Linked DNA regions of Homo sapiens: region 1 is linked to region 2. The links come from fine-mapping of genetic effects on gene expression. A gene starts in region 2. The other region holds a variant in brackets. All regions are shown on one strand. Distances are from middle to middle.

The links.
Region 1: its variant is fine-mapped to the expression of ZUP1 in lung (TOPMed, PIP above 0.99).

What each region holds. Positions count from the first base shown.
Region 1 is chr6:116,750,386-116,762,808 of GRCh38, reverse strand. FAM162B (family with sequence similarity 162 member B) reads left to right here. Exons shown (of 4, transcript NM_001085480.3): 3 at 724-832; 4 at 10,114-10,612. The coding sequence ends at 10,212. Among named protein-coding and RNA genes, the nearest start is that of FAM162B, 9.1 kb to the left of the region's middle. RefSeq lists an enhancer at 9,641-9,810. The variant G/A (reference allele first, on the strand shown) is at 6,522.
Region 2 is chr6:116,663,084-116,675,506 of GRCh38, reverse strand. It overlaps ZUP1 (zinc finger containing ubiquitin peptidase 1), which reads left to right and starts at 6,741. Exons shown (of 10, transcript NM_145062.3): 1 at 6,741-6,941; 2 at 8,300-8,873. The coding sequence starts at 8,315. RefSeq lists an enhancer at 6,717-6,906 and a silencer at 7,668-7,817.

The DNA of each region.
Region 1 (12,423 bases), 87 kb before region 2:
TTTGTAAGTAGTATTATTAAAATCTTGGACAACATGCATAAAACTATGAATGAATATTTAGAATTTAAGTATATCAAATTTCAGTATAATAATAACATTAAAATGAAGGTCTCTTTTATCTTTTTCCTCGGCAAATTATTGTGATTTTGATCACGTTTAACAAAAAATTATTGCAAAAGCCATGAAGGAAACATTTTTCTAACAGACATTCTCACAAGCTGGATAATAGTGTGTCTTTTGGGGGTAGCATGTGAAGGGACAAGAGATTGGGAGGCGAGTGAAAAAAACAAAATGATAAAAATGAGTTTTAAAAAAAAAACTGTTCAAATGGAAAACAAAGCCTACTTTACAAAGAGGCTAAATAATTGCAAGTCATCAACATACATATGCTTTAACTCTTCCTTTACCCCACTTAGTGAATAAAAACAATGGAGAGTCAAGTTAGCATCTCTAGTAGTTATATTTTGAGGAATTAGAAACTAATATTCTATACAGTGGTTTCATAATGGCTAACATTAATTTAAGATCTGAATAAATACTTGTTAATTTGAAATTGGTAAAAATAACTAGCTAGCATTTCAAAGTCTTTCACATGAAAATGTCACCAAATGCAGTTTGCATTCAGGGAATTTTTTGGAATGTTTACATGGCAAATTATCTATCATGCCTGTCAGAAAACCATATTACTTTTACATATTTAACAAAATACACATCTTTGTTTAGGCCAGAAATGATAGACACCGCAAGAAACAAAGCTCGAGTGAAAGCTTGTTACATAATGATTGGACTCACAATTATCGCCTGCTTTGCTGTGATAGTGTCAGCCAAAAGGGTGAGTATCTCCTTAAAAGGGCAAGTCAGTTAAAAGGGTAAGTACCTCTTTTTAAGTACCTCCCTAAAAGAGTATCTCACCAAAAGGGTGAGTACCTCCTTAGTCAGCCCAAAGGGTGAATTTTAAGAAATGTCATGGACATTGTTCTCGATTCAGGATTACTGCTGTTTTTTAATATAAGAACAATTTTGTCTTTGAGACTTGAAGTCATATATATATATATGTGTGTGTGTGTGTGTGTGTATATATAAGTATATATACAAGTATATATATAAGTATTTATATATGTATATATGTATATATAAGTATATATATAAGTATATATATAAGTGTATATATATGTATATATATGTGTATATATATATATAAAAAATACTGGAGATAAATTTGTTCATGGAAATTTGAGTCAACAAATTAACACTATATGGCCAGGAGGGACAAATGCTTGTTTTAACTTATAAACAAAACAATTTACACCGTGGTTAAAATCTGCAGAAGACGGAGAACTTTGTTGTTGAAAGTTATCCAGACTAGATCATTCATTAAATCAGGAACTCAATTAGCTATTGCACAGAAGTATGAACTAGTTAGAAATGCAGAGCTTGGAAGTGATTGCCAAGGTATTCTAGTTTGTCTGGATCCTTTATGTCAGCCCTTTCCTTGCCTTTCTCAATGTATGGTTTCTGTTTAATACCTCTAGTGAGAAATTAAGAGCTGACTACCCTCTAATTTTGTTTTCTGCCTCCCAAAATCCTTCCATCTACTGGTCACTTTTTACCACAAAGAGCAGCCCCACAAGTATTTTGACATTTCTAACACATACCTATGAGTATTTGCTTCTTCAGTTTTAACCACTCTAACAACTTCCTTCTACCTTTGAGCTGTCCTCTCAATACACTCCAGTTTTAACAGTGCCCCTCCTCATCGTGGCACCTGCAACTGAAGCCATTAGAGCTGGATTATAACATTTTTGGTTGTGAACACTGGGTTTCAATAGTGCATACGTATCATTCAGAATAGTTTGCTTGGCTCCATACATCCTCACTCTCTGGGCGTATTTAGCTAATTACCATTCTGCCCAATTCTGTGATTCTGTCCTTTACTCCTCAGGTGCCCAAGTGTGTCTGAGCCCACTAACTTCACACAGGGATTAGGACTTACAAGCCTACTGATATTATATAAATGTCCTTTCATTCCTATTAGCATGGAAAAAATCTATGCTTTGAAATTGTTCTCACCAAATGAGAAATTTTGAAATGTTTACTGGACTGAACACTCAAGCATGTAAATAAATAACTTTGATAATATTTTGTTTTTAACCTAACGTTAAATGACTGCCTGCCAAATTGATGATTCTCTAGTTTCTAGGAATATTTTGATGATTAGTGTATTGCCTCATCTACATCAAAAAGATAAACATTAATTAGACAATTTGTTTACTTAGAATCACCCTCTAATAATTTATTTATAATGGCACTTTAATGTTTTTAAATCATAATCACAAGTTTCCAAATGAGACATTAAGACCAATTAAACTTAATATATATTTTATCAGCAAGTTGGCATATTAGAGATCTACTGATGTCATCATTTTATTTTCAACACATATGATTTGAAGGAAAGGTTTTTTCATTTCCTGTTAAAATTCCATATTTCAAATATAATTCTATTATAAATCAATAGCCAGGGATTTTCTCTGTGTGAATCTGACACAAAAAGTAGCAACTGAGAATTGAGTTTTATGTGTAGCACCAGTTATTGCTCTGTTTCCTCTTCTCCAAAAGTGTGATAGCAAACACTGATTTTAAATCATTAATACACTAAATACTTTTGAGCACCTGAGACATGCCAGGCACTCTGCATGTAGTTATTAGAATATCATGGAATTAAAAGACAGGTATTTTGTAGTAGGGAAAATGGAGAGTGATCAAGTAAACACATAAACTAAAAAGATCTGAGGAATTCTTAGTGCAATGAAGGAAAGGAACAGGATGATAAAATAGTAACACCCCAGGAGAGGCCATTTTTGATGGAGTGGTCAGGGACGTCCTCTCTGAGGAGGATGAGAATAAGCTAGCCATGAGAAGACCGGGGGAAGGAAAGAACAGCATGTGCAAAGCTTAGAGGTGAGAAAGGGTCTGGTGTGTTAAGAAACAAAAAGGAGCTAGTGTGGATGGAGTATAATGAGCAAAGAGAAGATGGTATGAGACAGGGAGAGTCCAGATAGTGTCAGGCCTATGGATCACTGCAAATAGTTCAGGTTTTTAAAAATACATTGGGGATCCAGTGTAGAGTTTTAAGCAAGATAGTGACAAGATTTAAAAATTTTCACTCTCCTCTTTATTCAAAACCCAGTGAAAATAAAGATCAGGCCGGGCGCGGTGGCTCACGCCTGTAATCCCAGCACTTTGGGAGGCCGAGGCGGGCGGATCACAAGGTCAGGAAATCGAGATCATCCTGGCTAACACGGTGAAGCTCCGTCACTACTAAAAAAAAAAATACAAAAAAATTAGCCAGGCGTGGTGGCGGGCGCCTGCAGTCCCAGCTACTCGGGAGGCTACGCAGGAGAATGGCGTGAACCCAGGAGGTGGAGCTTGCAGTGATCCGAGATTGTGCCACTGCACTCCAGCCTGGGCGACAGAGACTCTGTCTCAAAAAATAAAAAAAAAAAAAAAAAGAAAGAAAGATTAGAAATAAGGATCCTACTTAAAATAGCAACAAACAAAAAAGGTAAGGCACGTAAGAATGAAATTAAAAATCATGCAATATCTATATAAAGGCAACTTTTAAACACTACCAGTGGCCACAAGAGAAGGTATAACCTAAGAAATTTTTATTTGGAATAGGAAGACTTGACATTTTAAAGAGAGCGAACTTCTCTAAGTCTATAAAGTTGACATGATTGCAATAAAAATAGCAATAGGATTTGTTTTGGAAGTAGACAAACTAAGTCTAAAATTTATATAGAAAAATAAGCAAAATACACAAGAAAATACTAAAAATAATAGTTCTAAGGGAGGACTAGCTCTAAAATATATTAAAACAAAACAACAACAATAATTAAAACTGCAGTACTGACATACAAATAGACAGGCAACTTAATAGAACTGAATTCAAATCACATAAATAACCCACTACATAGGGATTTAATATATGAAATAGTGACTCTGTATATGAGTGGAGAAAGATAAATTAGTCAAGAAATGATATTGGGACATTCCAACTATACTTTCTACATAAAATAAATTGCAGTTGGATATAAGATTTTCACATTAAATGTGAAGCCTTAAAATCACCAAAAGAATATATGAGGGAATTCTTTATAGTGGTTAGGTAGACATTTCTAAATATAGAACAAAACTGAGAAGCTATACAACAGAAAAGATAGATAAATTTAATCATATAAAGTTTAAAATTCTGCTTGGTAAAAAGTGCCATAAATAAAGTAAAAACACAAATGACAAACTAGGAAAAATACAAAATAGATCACAAACTAAGAGCTAATTTTCTTAAATTATAAGGAGCTCCACTAAATAAAACAGCAACAACCTTTTATTTTAAAAAATGGGTGAAAGATACAAAAAGGCAGAATTTGCAGAAAATAAAATGCACATGCCTCTTAAACACAGGAAAAGAAGTCTAGCCATCCAACTATTTCATGCTGTCTTTTCAGACCTTACACCTCCACAGTCCTCCCCATTGATGACCTTTCCTTCCACCTCACTGAGAGAATTGTAGCAGCCCAAGGAGCAGTTTCCAGTCTTATGACACATAATCCTGTATATTTTGCTTTTCTGCCTATTGTAAATGATTCTTGCTCCAATCTAGAAGCTCTTATTAATTGCGTGGATCCCATTCCATTTTGCCTTTTCAAGGTTTTCATTCCAGGAATTCTCAGGTTTATTTGCTCGTCATTAGTTGTTTTTCTTCTCTACTGTATCATTTTTTATCAAAATATAGAAATGTTTCTACTTCCCTCTTCAAAACCAAAAACAAAACTTCTTTTGGTATAGCTGCATTTCTCTATGGCAAACCTTTTCAGTAGACCTGTCTATATACACTGTCTCTGATTTCCTGTCTCATTCCGTCTGATCAGGCTCGTGCCTCAAACGCTCCATCAAACTGCTGTTATCAAGGTCACCAATGATACACTCATCTTCATTGACCTATCAGCATTTGACACAGTTGGTCTCCCCACCCCACCCCTTTTTTTTTTTTTTTTGGTGGAGGAGGACAGGGTCTCACTCTCACCCAGGCTGGAGTGCAGTGGCATGATCTTGGCTCCCTGCATCCTCTGCCTGCCAGGCTCAAGGGATTCTGCAGGCTCAGCCTCCTAAGTATCTGGGACCACAGGTGTCAATGACCATGCCGGGCTAATTTTTTTGTATTTTTTGTAGAAATGAGTTTTTGCCATGCCACCCAGGCTGGCCTCAAACTCCTAAACTCAAAGCGATCCTCCTGCCTTGGCCTCCCAAAGTGCTGGGATTACAGGCACGAGCCACTGCATGCATCCAATAAATTGTACTTTGTTTGTGAATGACACAAAAACATTTTCCCTAAAATTTTATTAACATGTATGACATATACCGTATTATATATTTAACATATTTTCATATAGTAACAATACAACTGAAATGCTTTATTATTATCTACAATTTTGCGATTTTATATTCATTATAATATTGTAACTGAAAATAAGACACTTATTGATACATAGATCCAGTAAAAGAAATACCTCTTTAGCTGTGATTACTAAATGGTGGTGCTAATACTTAATTTTATCCACCAACTATGCCAAAGCTTTTGTTGAAATATGCCCAGTAATTTCTTACCCTCCCTGATGTTCTTCAGCTATTTTATTCTTGCAAAATAATTGGAAGATATAGTAGTTTTGAATTTTGTGCCAAATGGATTCAAAACCCCATAAATTGTTTAGAGACTTTATTTAAGCTTACAAAATTATCCATATAAGTATTTAAAGACGCCATGTAATTTTCTGGCCAAAAAAGAAACCATTCTTATTTATTAATATCTATTCTAATGGTATTGAAATGAATGAAAACAGGCATACCTCAGAGATATTGTATGTTCAGTTCACAATAAAGTGAATATTAGAATAAACTGAGACACGCAAATTTTTTGGTTTCCCAATGCATATAAAAGTTATGTTTATAGTACACAATGAGTTGTAATCTTTTTGCTGGTGGAAGGTCTTGCTTTGATGTTGATGGCTGCTGACAGATCAGGATGGTGGTTGCTGAAGGTTGGGGTGGCTGTGGCAATTTCTTAAAATAAGATGACAATGAAGTTTGCCATATCAGTTGACTCTTTCTTTCATGAAAGATTTCCATGTAGCAGGCAATGCTGTTTGACAGCATTTTCCTCACAGTAGAACTTCTTTCAAAATTGGAGTCAGTTCTCTCAAACCCTACCACTACTTTATTAACTAAGTTTATGTAATATTCTAAATACTTTGTTCTAATTTCACCAATGTTCACAACATCTTCACCAGCAGTAGTTTCCATCTCAAGAAACCACTTTTTGCTATTTGTAAGAAGCAACTCATCTTGTGAAAGTTTTATCATGAGATTATAGCAATTCAATTTTGTTTTCAGGCTCCACTATGAATTCCAGTTCTGTTGCTATTCCACCACATCTGCAGTTACTTCCTCATACTTCCTCCACTGAA[G/A]GCTTGAACCCCTCAAAGTTATCTATGAGGATTGGAATCAGCTTCGTCCGAACTCCTATTAATATTGACCTCTTCCTATGATTCACAAATATTCTTAATGGCATCTAGAATGGTGACTCCTTTCCAGAAGGTTTTCAATTTACTTTGCTCAGATCCATCAGAGGAATCACTATCTATGGTAGCTATAGCCTTACAAAATGTGTTTCTTAAATAACAAGACTTGAAAGTTGAAATGACACCTTTTTCCATGGGCTGAAGAATGGATGTTGTGTTAGCAGTCATGAAAATATTAATCTCCTTGTAAATATCCATAAGAACTTTTGAGTGACCAGGTGCATTGTCACTGAGAAGTAATATTTTGAAAGGAATCTTTTTTTTTCTGAGAAGTAAGTCTCAACAGTGAGCTTAAAGTATTCAGAAAGCCATGTAAGCAGATATGCTGTCACCCAGGCTTCATTATTCCATTCGTGGCACAGGCAGAGTAGATTTACCATAATTCTTAAGAGCCCTAGGATTTTCAGAATGCTAATGAGTATTGGCTTCCACTTAAAGTCATCAGCTGCCAATAGCTCCTAACAAGAGAGTCAGCCTGTCTTTGAAGCTTTAAAACCAGGCATTGACTTCTCTCTATCTCTGAAAGTTCTAGATGGCATTTTCTTCCAAAATGAGGCTATTTTGTCTTCATTGAAAAACTGTATTTTAGCATAGACTTCATCAACAAAATTAGCTATAATAGATCTTCTAGATGACTTGCTGTAGCTTCTCTATTAGCACTTGCTGCTTCACCTTGCACTTTTGTTATGGAGACAGCTTCTTTCCTTCAGCCTCATGAACCAACCTCTGCTAGCTTCCAACTTGTCTTCTACTGCTTTCCCACCTCTCTCAGCCTTCACAGAACTGAAGACAGTTAGGGCCTTGCTCCATATTAGGCTTTGGCTTAAAGGAATGCTGTGGCTGGTTTGATCTTCTTTCCAGACCACTAAAACGTTTTTTATATCAGTAATAAGGCTGTTTCACTTTATTTAGGTGTTCACTGGAGTAGTACTTTTAATTTTCTTCAATAACTTTTCCTTTGCATTCACAACGTGGCACAAGAGGCCAAGCTTTTGACCTATCTTGGTTTTCAACATGCCTTTTTTCACTAAGCTTAATCATTTCTAGTTTTTTAAAGTGAGAGATGTACAACCCTTCCTTTTACTTGAACATGTAGAGGCCATTATAGGGTTATTAATTGGCCTAATTTCAATATTGTTGCATCTCAAGGAATAGGGAGGCCCAAAGAGAGGGAGAGAAATGGGAGACTGGCCAGTGGATGGAGTGGAGAATACATACAATGTTTATCAATTAAGTTAGCTGTCTTATATGGGCATACTTATGGCACCCTAAAATAAGTACAATAGTAACAACAGCAATCACTGATTACAGATTACCATAACAGATGTTATGAAAATGAAAAAGTTTGAAATATTGCAAAAATTAGCAAAATGTGACAGAGACACGAAGTGAGCACATGCTGTTGGAAAAATGGAGCCTATAGACTTGTTCCATGCAAGGTTGCCACAAACCTTCAATTTGAAAAAAACAAAAAAAGAAGAAGAAGAAAGAAAGAAAGTCACAATAAAGCAAAGCACAATAAAATGAGATGTGCCTTTATATTCTTCTGTATTATAGAACTGTCACAGGTTCCTCAAGATATCTCCAACTCCTGACATAGAGGAGGATTCTCTATTCCTCAACTCTTCTATTAAATGTTAGCAATTTTTCTTTTTAAAAAAAGATGAAATGTGTTCCTATTGCTTTCTTGACCTCAGTGGACATCGTAGTTCTTATCCTACTTTGAAGACTGTTTATTTAGACTCAGTTTGACACAACGTTTCAATGCTTGGGTGCTGATAAATCTCATTACATTTTGGGGAAGCAGTTGACAATTCTGCTTGATTAGCAAATATTTTCTTCTGCCGAATCAGTGCTGAATCAGTATCTTCCCTCCCTCAGATTCTGCTCAATCTGAGTTCAATCTACTGGAGCTGCTAAAACTATGTCTAGGTTGAGAATATCTGGATTATAAAGGAATTTGGTCTCCCTGCACTTCAAAGCCACTCCTCTACAGAAATTCTGGCACATAGTAGCCAGTCTCTCCATTCTTCAACCAAGAAAAGAATATTTTTGGCACATAGGGAAATAGTTAGTTATAAATGGATATATGAAAAACACTGGAATAGGCCAATGTGACATTTTTCACTTACCCTTTGTTGGAGAATGCAAACTAGCCATTGTCCTTCCATAAAAATCCTCAGAAGCTCTGAAGTGAGAGCATTGGGAATGAAAATCGTTTATCTTTTATGAAACGGTTTCTTCGCTTGGTTTCCGTGGTACCACACTCACGTAGGTTGTCTGTTGGCCACGTCTTCCAAGTTTACTCTGCCAGTTTCTCCTATTCTCCTGGACCTCATAACAGTGGAATCTCCCCATGGATCAGTCTTTAGTCTTTCCGTTCTCTAGCTACACTCACTCCCTTGGGGATCTTACCAAGTCTTCTGGATTTAAACACCTTCTATATTCCAAGGACTCTCAAATTTATATTTCAGCTAATGTCTTCCTTCTGCACTTCAAATTCATATAGTCAGTTGCTTACTTAACATTTCCCTTTGGATGTCTAATGGAATCTCAAACTTAACGTGTCAAAAGTTGAACTCTAGATCTTCCCCCAGACAACCCTGAGCCACCCTTTTCTGTACTGTTTTCCTCCTCTCAGTTGATGTCAACTCTATCTTTCTAGCTGCTCGTGGATAAGTCATCAGCAACCCCATTGGCTCCACTTTCAAAATACAGCCAAATTGGAGCACTCCTCAGTATCTCTCCTGAGATACCAATATACATCTATTGCCTGGTTCATTGCAATATCTTCTAAATGGTCCCACCACTGTCCCTCTTGCCTGTCTCCAATTCATTTTTCATTTTTAATAACAATGCATGTACCTTAAAGAAATTGTGGCAGATGGAGATGCAGAAAAGGTTAGCAAGTTCAGGTAAATTTGGGGAAGTAAAAAGGATAGAACTTTGTGGTGAATTCATTGTGGAAGCAGAAAAGAAAATGGAATAAAGAAGTGAAAAGGCCTGGGTTTTTTTGACTTTAGCAAGTAGGTGGGTGATGCTGCCATTTATTGAGATGTGTATGGCTAGGGAAAGACTGGTAGGCAGGGGGAACAAAATATGTCAACTCTCTATTTTGGCTATATTAAATGTGAGATGCACACTAGGTATCCTTCAATATATATTAAATGCTTATTTATTTTACTAAGGACTTTGTATGTCTCTCAGTTTGAGGACTTATAGCTTTCCTCACTTCTGAAAAAGTCTATGCTGTCATAACTTCAAATATGGCCTCTTTACCCATTCAGTCTGTTCTCTCTTCCCATTATTAACATATGTTAGAACTTCTAATTCTATTCCCTCCTGTGTATTTCTATCTCAAATACAAATTTTTCCAGTTTCCAGAGAGTCACAGTGAGATATATATACATATATGTATATATATATATATACGTGTATCTATATATATATATATATATATATTTCTTCCCCCCCACAGGCTGTAGAACGACATGAATCCTTAACAAGTTGGAACTTGGCAAAGAAAGCTAAGTGGCGTGAAGAAGCTGCATTGGCTGCACAGGCTAAAGCTAAATGATATTCTAAGTGACAAAGTGTTCACCTGAATACCATCCCTGTCATCAGCAACAGTAGAAGATGGGAAAAATAGAATATTTACCAAAATATCTGCCATGGTTTTATTTTGGTAACAAGAAGCACAATGTCTTTTTTATTTTTATTTTTTAGTAAACTTTTACTGAAGTATACCATGCATTCAAAAAGTGGACAAAACTGTATACAGTCTGATAGATATTTATGTCGTGAACACCTGTGTAACCACTGCCAAAGTGAAGATGTAGAATATTGGCAACACTTCACAGCCTCATTCCTGCCTTTTCTCAGCCATTACCTCCCAAACATAGCAGTTTTTCTGAGTTTCATCACCTTTGATTCATTTTGCCTGTTTTTGAACTTTATATAAATGGATTTATACATTATGCACTTGTGTGTGTGGATTATTTACCTGACAGTTATAAGGTTAATCCACAAATTGTGTGTACCATTAGTTCATCCATTGTCATTGCTGTATTCTGTTGTATAAACATACCACAATTTATTTTGATATTTGGCACAGTTTCTGGCCACTACATATAATGCTAAAATGAGCACATTGTATATGTCATTAAAATGAGGTTGAACTAATCATTAAGGGCTCATTAAAATCAAAACTAATTTTCAACCAAAATTTCACTGTATTTAGCAGCTGGGTAGTACCTCTGATTATTCTTTTTATAGTTTGTAACTAGGTGAAATAGGTTGAATTATTAATTCTAAAACCTATTCCTAAAATGGTAAAGTACTAAAACAGTAATTGTAACAGCAATTTTGAAAATGACAAAAATGTTAGAGAAAAAAAATGGTATACATTAATGATCGTCAAACTTGCTTAAGCCCTAAAATAACTTTTTAAAATTACATATCTCATCCCTGCACATTTTTAACTTCACATTTGTTATTTTTTAACCATAAATGTAAGTATTATAAAAGATATAACTTCTGGCATATTGTATAGTTCATGTGCTTTAAGTGTATTTTCCATCATAACCTTGAAGCCACATAATTAGCTCAATCAGTTTGTGGAGGATGTCTGCCTGTCCATTTTGAGGTACAAAGCCAGTTCTTATTGTCAAACTAATGAGCCAAATCAAACTTATACAGTCACAGATCATTTAATGATGGGGATACATTCTGAGAAATGCATTGTTAGGTGATTTTATCATTGTACAAACATGACAGAGTATACTTACATAAACCTAGATAGTATATATATTTTTATTTATATGTATTTTTCATATGGAAAACCAAACGTCCCAGCACCATTACTGAATTATCAGTCATGTCCCCTACTTGATCTGCAGTGCCAATACCAAGTGCCATATATCAGACTTCTATGTATGCTCCCTATGACCTTGGGGACCACTGTTGTATATGTGGTTCATTCATCTTACACCAAAATGTCATTATGTGGCACGTAACTATACTTTTTGTTAGAAAAAGGCTTACTTTGATTTGAAAATGAAAATGTTAATATATATTCCTGTGACAATAATCTCATTTTTGAATCCTAACTCTTAGATAGAGAAGGCATGAAGCATTGTTATGAGTCTGTGTCTTGGATGAACCAAGGCACTGCTGCTTTATTTTTTTTTTAATTTGTAAATTTATACACAATAGATGTACATAAATTCAGGGTACATGAGATAATTTGATATATTCTTATAAGGTGTAAAGATAAAATCAGTGTACTTATCTGTCACCTTAAATATTTGTCTTTATGCTAGAACCATTTGAATGATTCTCTTCTAGCTATTTTGAAATATACAATAGATCACTGTAAACTATAGTCACCCTACTGATCTATCTAACACTAGATCTTACTTCTTCTACCAAACCATATGTTTGTACCTGTTAATCAACTTATCTTCATTGCCCTCTCTCCACCACTCTCTCTGGCCTCTGGTAACCACCTGTCTATGCTCTGTCTTCGTGAGACCCACTGTGGCACTGGCTGCTTTCACATTTTGCACAGTGACTCCCTTTGTTTTGCTCTCATGGAACTCCCTCTCTGGAGCTATTAATTCTAAAATTATTCTTTGTCATCCAGAAGGTTTTTGTATCACAAAGCACAGCATGAGTAAGGTTCAGAATGAGAGTGAAGTGCTCTCTTTTTGCACAATAGTGTAAGGTTGGTTATGAGGAGAGGTGAGAAAGGAGAACCGTCAGACCACATTCTTGGGCATATACATTG
Region 2 (12,423 bases):
AATCAAATAATACAAATATATCATTTAAAGGGTCCAATAATAAGTTTATCGTGAAAATTAACACTTCCCACCTGACCATCCCCAGATGCCGCTCCCCAGAAGCTACTATTTTCAACTTGTTTAGGTATTCTTATTGGTATCTCTTTTCTAATTAAATATTTTAAAATCATACACTGCTATTTCTTAATTTGTAAAGTCATAGACATTTTCTATTGTTATAGATGTAAAATGAGAATTTATTACTCATAACTGCACTAACCTCCCAACATACACATTTACACATACTTCCTGATCGCACATCCTCCAATATAGTTCTATCAAAATTATTTTGGTTAAATCAATATTTAAATTTTTATGTAAAAATTACATTCCTTGTATAGTTTTTTATTGTTCTAAAATTAATTGCCTGTTTTCTGTCATTATCATTTGCTTAATTTTCTAACTACTCATCACTAACTCATCTTCAAACACACTGCTGGAGATCTGTATTAGTTTCCTGTTGCTGCTCTAACCAATTACCACAAACTTGCTGACTTAAAATAACATAAATGTATTATCTTACACTTTTAGAGGTCAGAAGTCCAAAATGGGTCTCACTGGGCTAAAATCAAGGTGTCAGCAAAGTTGTGTTTCTTCTGGAGCCTATAGGGGAGAATCCATTTCCTTGCCTTTTCCAGTTCCTTGAAGCTACCTACATTCCTTGGCTTCTGGACCCCTTTCAGCAATTACATCTCTCTGACCTCTGTTTCTGTTATCGCATCTCCTTTTCTAAGACTGACCTTCCTATCTGTCTCCCTCTCATGAGGACCCTTGTGATTACATTGTGCCTACCTAGATAAACCCCTCTTGTCAAGATCCTTAATCACATCTACAAATTCCTTTTGCCATGAAAAGTAAGATATTCACAGGTTCTGTTAATAAGGAAATAGAATCTTTTAAAAAAATTTAATATTAGAGACGGGGGGGGCGGGTCTCACTATGTTGGCCAGGCTAGTCACCAACTCCTAGCCTTAAACAATCCTCCCACCTTGGCCTTTCAAAGTGCTGGGATTACACGTGTGAGCCACCATGCCTGGCCAGGACATAAACATCTTTGAGGGACACTATTCTGCTTAACAGAATATATTTCTCTCAGTATGGTCATAAACATGAAGTGATCTGTCAGTTGCCTCTTTCCTCCCTCCCTCCCTTTCTTTTTCTTCCTTTCTGCCTTCATTCCTGTCTGTTCTCTCTCATCTTGGTAGAGTTTTTTATGGAATTCCATACGTTCTACTTTCTTTTTTTCTTTTCTTTTCTTTTCTTTTCTTTTTTTTTTTTTTTTTTTTTTGAGATGGGGTCTCAATCTGTCACCCAGGCTAGAGTGCAGTGGTGTGATCTCGGATCACTGCAACCTCTGCCTTCTGGGCTCAAATGATCCTCCAACCTCAGCCTCCTCAGTAACTAGGACCACAGGCACACGTCACCACGTCCGGATAATTTTTTGTATTTTTGGTAGTGACGGGGTTTCACCATATTGCCCAGGCTGGTCTCAAACTCCTAAGCTCAAGCAATCCGCCTGCCTCGGCCTCCCAAAGTGCTAGGATTACAGGTGTGAGCCACCATGCCCGGCCCCATACCTTCCACTTTCTTTGCTTCTTCCCTCATTTTGGTGGGAGCTTCCTGGGAAATAATAAGAAATAATGTTTCAGGAGAAATTATTATTAAGTCATGAATTATCATGTCATTTCATTGATAACTAATTTTCCATTGTTTTTGTTGTTATTCCTCTCTGTATCTCTTATTAGTTGGATGTAGAATCCAATTTCTCATTTGATTATTTTCCTTTCCTGTTTTTCTATCCCTTGTTCTTTTTGTTCTGTTTTCTGAGAAATTTCTTGGGCTTTATCTTCCAGGCCTCTATTAATATGTGTATTTTAAAGTATGAAATATTTTTAATCCCAACAGCTATTTCCTATTTTGGATTTAGAGATTCAATACATTTTCTTATCTATCTGAGGATATTAATTGTGGTTTCCATTGAAATTTTTTTCTCTTTCTTTTTTTCTTCAGAGCTTACTTTTTAAACTATGATTATTGTTTAGCTCTCCATCTTACTTGCCATAGGCTGTACTCAAATGCCTGGAACCCTTGAGTATCTATTCATATTTAAGAATAAGACATTAAAGAAACCTTCTATACACTGTGCGTCAGTGGGGCTTGTTTATTCACCAATTGGCAGCCTTCCCACAGAGTGGTAAAATAGGGACCTGGCTGTATCATTGGATAACTTCCTAAAAGTTGACATCTGTTAGGTCTTTCTCTTGGGACAATTGATTTCTCTGGGGAGGAATTTTCCAACCTCCTGCCTTGGAGGCAGAAATCACATATCAAGATGTGATGGGGGAAAAGGAGCAAGAGGTTCATAATTTAGTATTTAGCCTTCCCTATTTCCCATTTTCAGTCCAGTGCCTTTACCCTAAGGATAGGGTCAAGCCTTTGAACCCCCAGGATAGGGTTCATAGCTGGTTTTTTTGGTTCGTTTTCTTCATGAACTAAATCTGTAGTCTTCTATCTGGAAGGGAAAGAGGAGTCTCATGGCAACCTAGCTGTATTAGAGTTCTTCAGAGAGACATAACCAATACTATATACGAGAGGCAATTTATTAGGGAATTGACACATGATCACAGAGGTGGAAGTCCCACAATAGGCCATCTTGCAAGCTAGAGCACCAGAGAAACTGGTAATGTGGCTCAGTCCCAGCAGCCTCAGAACCAGGGAAGCAGAGGGTTTGGCCCCCACTCTGAGGCTAAAAGCCCAAGAGTTCCTGGGAAGCCACTCGTGCGAATCCCAGTGTCTAAAAGATGAATATGGTGCAATCTGATGTCCAAAAGCAGGAAGGAAAAAGGTGTCTTGTTCCAGAAGGGAGAGAGCAAAGAGAGAGAATTCCCTCTCTTTCCTGTTTGCCCCAGCCTAGCCCTCAGCTGACTGTATGGTGCTTGCCACACTGAGGGTAGGTCTTCCTCTCTCAGTCCACTGACTCACAGGTCAATCTCCTCTGGAAACACCCTCACAGATACAGCTAGAAACAATGCTTCACCAGCCATCTAGGCATCCCTCAATTCAGTCAAGTTGGTAGTGACGGGGTTTCACCATATTGCCCAGGCTGGTCTCAAACTCCTGAGCTCAAGCAATCTGTCTGCCTCGGCTTCCCAAAGTGTAGGATTACAGGTGTGAGCCACCATGCCTGGCCCCATACCTTCCACTTTCTTTGCTTCTTCCCTCATTTGGCGGGAGCTTCCTGGGAAATAATAAGAAATAATGTTTCAGGAGAAATTAACCATCACACTGGTGATGGAGAAAATCTAGAGTTGGAGTTCTAACTGTTCCTTATTCAGACTTTCAGTAAAATGATCCTTTATTTAGTTCCAAATGTCACCATCATTTTTAGAAGTATCTTGTGTTTAATTTCTGGAATTTTCAGATTTCTGGGAAGGAGGAGTGTATTAAGATGGAGTAGGGACCCTACTTAGGGGCCCGTGGGCAACCCCCAAGCATGGAAATAAAGGAAAATATTGAGTTCCTTCAAGGAAAATTCCAGGAACCTAGCTAGCGCTGAGAAATAAATGAGCAATTTGATAAACAAAAAGGTAATAGTAGCTTAAAACATTGGCCCAAAAAAGTCAGGAGATGTTTTATTCCCTATAGAAACTTAAGATAACATTTTAACATATGTCCCTGGGTTGTTTTCCAGAAACCCAGATCCCCCACCAAACAGATCTACTGTCCAACATGATTTGACCCCTGATAATGGGAAACTGAAGACTAAATCCTGATCGCTGTTCTTTGTTCTGAATTTCTTCCTGAGGGGCCTGGAGGAGATCACACCCCTGAGCGAGAGCTAATATTCTTTTCTGCTGATCCCAAATTTTTAGACAAAGCTTTGCCTCCTTAGCAAATCAAACGTCAGAAAATCTTTGAATCCACCTGTAACCTGTGCCCCGAACCACTTCAAGATGTCCAGCCTTTTAAAATCAAACCAACGTATAGCTTCCGTGTATTGATTTATGACGTCGCCTGTAACCTCTGCCTCCTCACCTTTAAAAACTCTTACCTGTAAGCAATGTGGGAGTTCAGGTCTTAAGCATGAGCTACTCAATTCTCCTTCCTTGGTGCCCTACAATAAATGCCTCAACTTTCTCTTGCTGCTATCCCAGTGTCAGTGTTTGGCTGTGCTGTGCTGGGCAAGCAGACCCCAGCTGCTGTGCTGGGCAAGCAGAAACCCATACAAGTCAAGACAGTATGACTTGACTTGGTTTTTGTTGACATCGGTTCTGAGTTAAGTTCGTTATTAATCATTCATCTTTTTTTAGCTTTCAAAGTTTTGTAAAATCTCATTAGCTGTTAGTAGTATTATTTTTATTTTCCTGCTATCATTTTAATAGATTTTGAGAGGCAGAGAAATATAAATTTACATGTTTAATCTTCCATGTTTGTCCACAAATTTCCAGAACGATTTTTTTTTTTGAGACAGGTTCTCATTCTGTCGCCCAGATTGGAGTGCAATGGTGCCATTATGGCTCACTGCAGCCTCAACCTCCTGGGGCTCAGGTGATCCTCCCACCTCAGTCTCCCGAGTAGCTAGAATTACAGGCCACATCACCACGCCCAGCTAATTTTTGTATTTTTTTGGTTGAGACGGGTTTCTCCATGTTGCCCAGGCTGGTCTGGAATTCCTGGGCTCATGCGATCTGCCCGCCTCTGCCTCCCAAAGTGTTGGGATTACAGGCGTGAGCCACCGCGCCTAGCCAATTTTTAAAAACATACTATTTATCATCAGATAACATCACCCTCCTATTTAAATACCTCACTAGTTTTCTACCAGGTCCTACATGATTTGGCCCCTGTCTACAACCCTAACCTCATCTTGTAATCATTTTTCTCCTTACCACATTATGCTCTGGTCAAAAAGTGTTCTTTTTGCTCCAGCCTTAGGCCTTCGTTCTTGTTATTTTATCTGTCTGAAATGCTATTTCCCCTGTTGGTGTAAGGTTTGTTCATCAGCACACTCAACCCTTCATCAAGACCTTTTCTAAACATTCGTATCTCTATAATCCAGTTTTCTTTTCTTTCTTTCTTTCTTTTTTTTTTTTTTTTTTTGAGACTCAGTCTCAAAAATCTATTGCTCTGTCACTCAGGCTGGAGTGTAGTGGCACGATCTCAGCTCGCTGCAACCTACGCCTCCCGGGTTCAAGCAATTCTCCTGCCTCAGCCTCCCGAGTAGCTGGGATTACAGGCACCTGCCACCACGCCCAGCTAATTTTTGTATTTCTAGTAGAGACGGGCTTTCACCATGTTGGCCAGGCTGGTCTTGAACTCCTGACCTCAAATGATCTGCCCGCCTCGGCCTCCCAAAGTGCTGGGATTACATATGTGAGCCACTGAGCCTGGCCAATCCAGTTTTATTTTCTTCATAGCACTTATCATGATCAGTTAATTTACTTTTTATTTCCTCTACCTCACCAGCATGTAAGCCTCAAAAATCCTGAATTTTGTGTATTTTGATTACTGCTGCAGCTCCTGTTGCAAGCAAAACGCCTTTCTAATAGACACTCTTTAAATATTTGTTGAATGAAATAAAGCCTGAATGACAAGATATTTGTGATTTTGGGCTAACATGGTGGCTCACACTTTGGGAGGCCGAGATGGGAGGATCATTTGAGGCCAGGAGTTCGAGGCTGCGGTGAGCTATTTTAGCCACTGTGCTCTGGCCTGGGTGACAGAAAGAGTCCTCCTCTCTAAAAATACATACATACGGCCGGGCACGGTGGCTCACGCTTGTAATCCCAGCACTTTGGGAGGCCGAGGGGGGCGGATCACGAGGTCAGGAGATCGAGACCATCCGGGATAACACGGTGAAACCCCATCTCTACTAAAAATACAAAAAATTAGTCAGACGTGGTGGCGGGCGCCTGTAGTCCCAGCTACTTGGGAGGCTGAGGCAGGAGAATGGCGTGAACCCGGGAGGCGGAGCTTGCAGTGAGCAGAGATGGCACCACTGCACTCCAGCCTGGGCGACAGAGCAAGACTCCGTCTCAAAAAATATATATATATACATACATACATACATACAAACCAAGATATTTGTTATCTTGTAACCTTGAGGAAAGAACCTGGTATCCTTTACCTTCGGTGCATAGCTGGGAGCTTGATACCTAGCAGCATTATAAACCCTTTATTGATACTAAAATAGAGTGCTACTCAGCAGGCCCTAGTGTAGACTGCTATTTGCCCCAGGACCTGCCCTGTGAACTCATTCAGATTAAGTATGAATGACCTCAGAGCCCGGTTTTCTCTCCTAGCAATTGAGTGGCAGGAAACTCGATGGGAGAAGGAAAAACTCGGAAATGGGAGGAATGCAAAAATGACTACATCTCTCAGGAGATCGAGACCATCCTGGCTAACACGGTGAAACCCCGTCTCTACTAAAAATACAAAAAATTAGCCAGGCATGGTGGCGGGCGCCTGTAGTCCCAGCTACTCGGGAGGCTGAGGCAGGAGAATGGCGTGAACCCGGGAGGCGGAGCTTGCAGTGAGCCGAGATCGCGCACTGCCCTCCAGCCTGGGCAGCAGAGCGAGACTCCGTCTCAAAAAAAAAAAAAAAAAAAAAAGACTACATCTCCCAGAATGCACTGCATAGAGACCGGCGTGGAGCGGCGCATTCTGGGATTACTTCTTTTCCGTGGGAGTAAGGAAGTGCTTTTGAATGAGGTACTGAGGGCCAAGGTGTTGGAAGTTCCTAATTCTTTCCTCGGTTAACTGTGAAACTCTGCGTATTGGGAAGGCCTGGCCTCAGTCATCAGGCCAGGAGAGGTACTGGACGCCGCGCACGCACTCGTCTGCCAGCGAGGCCCAAAGGGGAAGCCTAGCGGAGCTCAGTGTGGCAGCTGCTGGCCTCTGGGCCGGTAAGAATTGATGGTCCCCTCCCTTATTCCCCAGGCCCAAAGCTTTGACCCAGTTAGTGCCTGCTAGTTTCGTGTGCCTGGCTTGTGCCTTTGGCGCGGAACGTTTGGGAGACTCGGCCTTGCGGTCTTCTGACCTCACCCACCACGTACCTAGCTTGGCACTGGGTCCTTCATGCCTCTCACTCGCTTCCTCTGAGGCACCTGGGTACTCTCTTGTCTCTTACCCGCTTAATCTGAGTCCATGTCCAAGTTCATCATTCTGTGTCTGACCGTGTCCCAGCCACCGGAAGAGAAGAAACTCCGGGTGTGACATTAATCCCACTGGGGGCTCGGGAGAACTGCCTTCTAAAATCAGAGACTGTATCCATTTGTCTGGAGAGAAATGAAAAAAATAAGGACAATGTAGGGAGGTATTTTAAAGGTAAATTTATTTAAATGAAGTGATAGTGTCATTACTTTTCCTGTTTGATTTTAAATAGTCTTTAGCTGAACGATGACCTGTAGTAGGAAGGTGGTGGCGAAGTGATTGCTTTTTTTAAAATTATTTTTTTAACACTTTTATGTCAGTAGTCAGTACTTTATTTGTCCATAAAATCCAAAAATAACTACCTTTGGATTTTACAGTAGTCTTTGACTGAACCTCAGAGAGATGAGATTCCTTACCCAAAATGATGAATCTGAAATTATTACCCAGTTCTCTTGACTCTGGAATAAGTGCTTTTTTCTACTATACCACTTCTGCTTTTATTCTTGGGGCTGAGAGTACAGGCTGTGGAGCACGACGGGGTTGGCATTTTGGCTTCCACCTTTTTCTGCTTGTGGTGACCTGTCTGAGCCAGAATTTCTTTATGTGTAGAGCGATAATAATAGTACTTAAATTACAATAATAGCACTTAAATAGCACTTGATACATGTAAGACTCTAAGTTTACAGTGTTAAACTCTACTTGTAAGATGTGTTTATTTACCTCCTCAATATAATCAGCTTCAGTATTCAGTATTTAGATATATCAGTTGATAAATAGGTTTCTTCTCTTCATTTTTTTCTTACCTGATTTATCTTACCTGGACAATTTTTTAAACGTTATTTTTTCTCCACCTTGGGCCAGAGACATTTTTTGAAATATTTTATTTTTAAAATTACTTGTATTCATTATTATTGCCTTTTTTTAAAAAAAAATAAATGAAATTTTGGTTGATATTTATAAATAAGTTTTTGTATTTGAGGAACAGTAAGTACATTGAAAACTTCTTCATCAAAATAATCCAGCGTTAAAGACCAAGTAATTGTCTCAAATCATTTTATGAAACACATTTTTTCTTCAAATCTTTGAAACCTAATGTTATGTTCTTTTCTAGCTACTTGTCAATACCATGCTTTCCTGTAATATTTGTGGTGAAACAGTAACCTCAGAACCAGACATGAAAGCTCACCTAATTGTTCACATGGAAAGTGAAATTATATGTCCATTTTGCAAGTTGTCAGGTGTGAATTATGATGAAATGTGTTTTCATATCGAAACAGCTCATTTTGAGCAGAATACACTTGAAAGAAACTTTGAGAGGATAAATACAGTACAATATGGAACTTCAGATAACAAGAAAGACAACACCCTACAGTGTGGAATGGAAGTTAATTCAAGTATTCTTTCAGGTTGTGCATCTAATCATCCAAAAAATTCAGCTCAAAACCTGACTAAAGATAGTACTTTAAAACATGAAGGCTTCTATTCAGAGAACTTAACTGAATCTAGAAAATTCCTGAAAAGTAGGGAAAAACAGTCCAGCCTGACCGAAATAAAAGGATCTGTTTATGAAACAACATACAGTCCTCCTGAATGTCCATTCTGTGGAAAAATAGAGGAGCACAGTGAAGATATGGAAACTCATGTGAAAACAAAGCATGCCAATCTTTTAGACATTCCATTGGAAGGTAAAGTTTTCATTTCATTATAAATTATAAGTTTACAGCCTCAATTTAATATGTGGTATTTTAAAAGTTGGTTTGTAAGTCAGCTTACTACAGATGTGTTTTGAAATCCATTTTATGTCTATAACATTTTTCATTTGCTGTTACTGAAATATAAAAGTACATTATGGAAAAGAATTTTAATGCAGATATAAAATGTTTCAGCTACATTGAGAGTAGTTTTGGAACTTTCTGTCTAGTTTCCAGAGGGTATTCTTTTTATTGTCACTAACCCAGTAGCATCTGGACTGTCCTGGACTCTCTGACTTTGCATTGAGTTCTATTTTGACTCCATTATTCTGTTATGATTGGAGAACAAACTCTCTGTGATATCAGTTCTTTTAAATTTGTTGAGGCCTGTTTTATGGCTCAAGACACGAGCTATCTTGGTCATGTTCTGTGGATACTTGGGAAAAAAAAGTGTATTCTGCTTTGTTGGGTGGAATGTTATATGTATGTCACTAGATCCTGTTGTTTATGTTCAGATTATTTATATCCTTGCTTGTTTTCTATAGTAGTACTGTCTAGTAGTTCTATCAATTTTTGAGAAGGGGTTGTTGAAATCCCTGATTATAATTGTAAATTTATCTATTTTTCCTTTCAGCTCTGTCAGGTTTTGTTTCATGTATTTTGAGACTCTATTGTTGGTGTGTACACATTTAGGATCTTATGTCTTTTTCTTATTGTTGAACTTTAAGAATTTGTGGAGCCAGGTGTTGTGGCTCATGCCTGTAATCCCAGCAAGTTGAGAGTCCGAGGTGGGCAGATCCCTTGAGTCCAGGAGTTCGAGACGATCCTGGGCAATGTGGCAAAAGCTCGTCTCTTCAAAAAAAAAAAAAAAAACCAAAAAACTAGCCAGGCCTAGTGGCTTGCGTCTGTAGCCCCAGCTATTTGGGAGGCTGAAATAGGAGGATCACCTGAGCCTGGGAAGTGGACGCTGCAGTGAGCCATGATCACACTACTGCACTCCGCACTCCACTCTGGGTGACTGAATAAGACCCTGTCTCCAAAAAAAAAAAAAAAAAAAAGAAAAATTTTTCTGTATTTTGGATACAAGTTCTTTTTTGGATGTGTATTTTGCAGATATTTTCTCTTAGTCTGTGGCTTGTCTTTTTATTCTTTTAACAGTGTCTTTCATGAAGTAGAAGTTTTTAATTTTAATGAAGTGCAACTTGACAATTTCTTCTTTCATGGATCATGCTTTTGGTGTGTCTAAAAACTCTTTGCCAACTTCTAGAAGTTTGATAGTTTTGTATTTTACATTTAGATCTGTGATACATTTGAATTACTCTATGTAAAAGGTATGAAGTCAGTGTCTACATTCTTTTTTAATGCATTTCTCTGATTATGAAATCAATCTTTTTTTGTATAGTTATTTTAATTTCCTCTATTATGAACTGCATATTACATTTTTTGTACACTTGAGTTACATGCATTTTTCAACTGTATATTGTCAAATATTTTTTGAGTTTTTTTCAGTTGCTTTTAAAATATATTTTCAATACTAATCCTTCAGCTGTATTCCATAAGATGTTGCTTATCCTTGAATTTTGTGCAGTATTTGAATTTTATTTTTGTTTTCTATGTATTGTCTAAAAAAGTATTCTTTACTCTGAATTCAAAAAGCTATTCTCATATATTCTAAAAACTTTAATGTTTTATATTTTCACTTTTTAAAATTTTTTCTGGATTGTGTGTGTGTGTGTGTGTGTGTGTGTCTGTACTTGTGTACATGTGTATATTTTGTGAACTTGGGATCTAATTTTTAGTTTTTCCCTGTACAGAAACCAGATATATCTCTGATTTATAATATGGTTTCTGTTTTTTATTACATTTTCATATCTGTGTGGGCCAGTTTCTGGTCTCTTACTTCTGCTGTATTTATCTATGTGACTTTTGTTCCCTTATTACACCACCACTTTAATAGCTATTTTGTAAAATGTCATCAACATCAGATAGGACAGTTTTTCCCTCGTTCTTCATTTTCATCATCAACTTAGACCTTCTCATTCTTTCTTTTCTTTGAGTTTTAAAGCCATATTATCAAGTTTCATAAAAACTCTGTTGTCATTTTGTTTTAAATTAGATCAAAGTACATCTCCCCATTAATTCAGGTCATCTTTTGTATCCTTTAATACAATTTTGTGTGTGTGTGTTTTTTTTTTTTTTGATGGACTTTTGCCCTGTCACCCAGGCTGGAGTGTAATGGCACGATCTCTGCTCACTGCAACCTCTGCCTCCCAGGTTCAAGCAATTCTCCTGTCTCAGCCTCCCAAGTAGCTGGGATTACCACTGCCCACCACCAGGCCCAGTTAATTTTTGTACTTTTAGTAGAGACAGGGTTTCGCCATGTTGGCCAGGCTGGTCTGGAACTCCTAACCTCAGATGATCCACCTACCTCAGCCCCCCAAAATGCTGGGATTACAGGCGTAAGCCACCGCGCCCAGGCTTGTGTTGTTTTTTCATTGCACATTTGTGTTAGCTTTATTTCTGTATAGTTTATATTTTCTGTTGCTTTTGTAAATTAGATTTTTTTCCCTCTCATCTAAGAAACTTTTGCAGTTTTATAGAAACACTATCAATTTTTATAGATAGTTGAGGTATCTAGTCTTATTCAACTATTACTAATATTATTTTATTTTATATTTTTTGAGACAAGGTCTTACTATGTCACCCAGGCTGGAGTTCAGTGGCATGATCATGGCTCACTGCAGCCTTGATCTCCTGGGCTCAAGTGGTTCTCCTGCCTCAGCCTCCCAAGGGGCTGGGACTACAGGCCTGCACCACCACGCCCAGCTAATTTTTTTTTTTTAATATTTAATAGAAATGAGGTCCTGCTATGTTACTCAGGCTGGTCTTGAACTCCTGTGCTCAAGCAGTCTTCCTTCCTCAGCCTCCCAAAGCATTAGGATTGCAGGTGGGAGCCACTGCGTCTGGCCTGTTAACGAATTTTAATAATTCTACATTAATTCCCTTGAGTATTCTAAGTAGATCATTTTATTATCTGCTAATAATGAAAATTTATGGACTGCTGCAAGGAAAAAAAACAAGTGTATTGAAAAATGCCTGACAATCCTTTGCTGACACAACATTTCCTGTAAGTTTCTCAGGACCAGTAAACTGGTGAATTTTGGTAGTCTTAGGAGTCTGAATGTTTAGTTGCGGTTAAAAAAGACCTGTTGTCATTAGAAGTACAGAAGTGAAATAGGTAAATAGCTAGATTTAACCAATGTTCAGTTATAGTAAATGGAACAGGTGGATTTGCAGGTGTTTTTAAGGGAATGATTATCATATAGAGAAGATATGTGGAATCTGGGCTGGAAAGTAAAGAAAAACATGAGGGGGGTAATGAATGACAGAAAAATAGGGTTTGTATATTCTATATAGGAGGTTTTAGTTAGGTCAAACACTTTTTAGAGTGGTAGAATTAAAAGAAGTGAGGTAGAAGGATAGGTGTTTGGGAGTGATATTTGAAATTGAGATTTCAGAGATTCACTTAGTGATAAATTAAGGG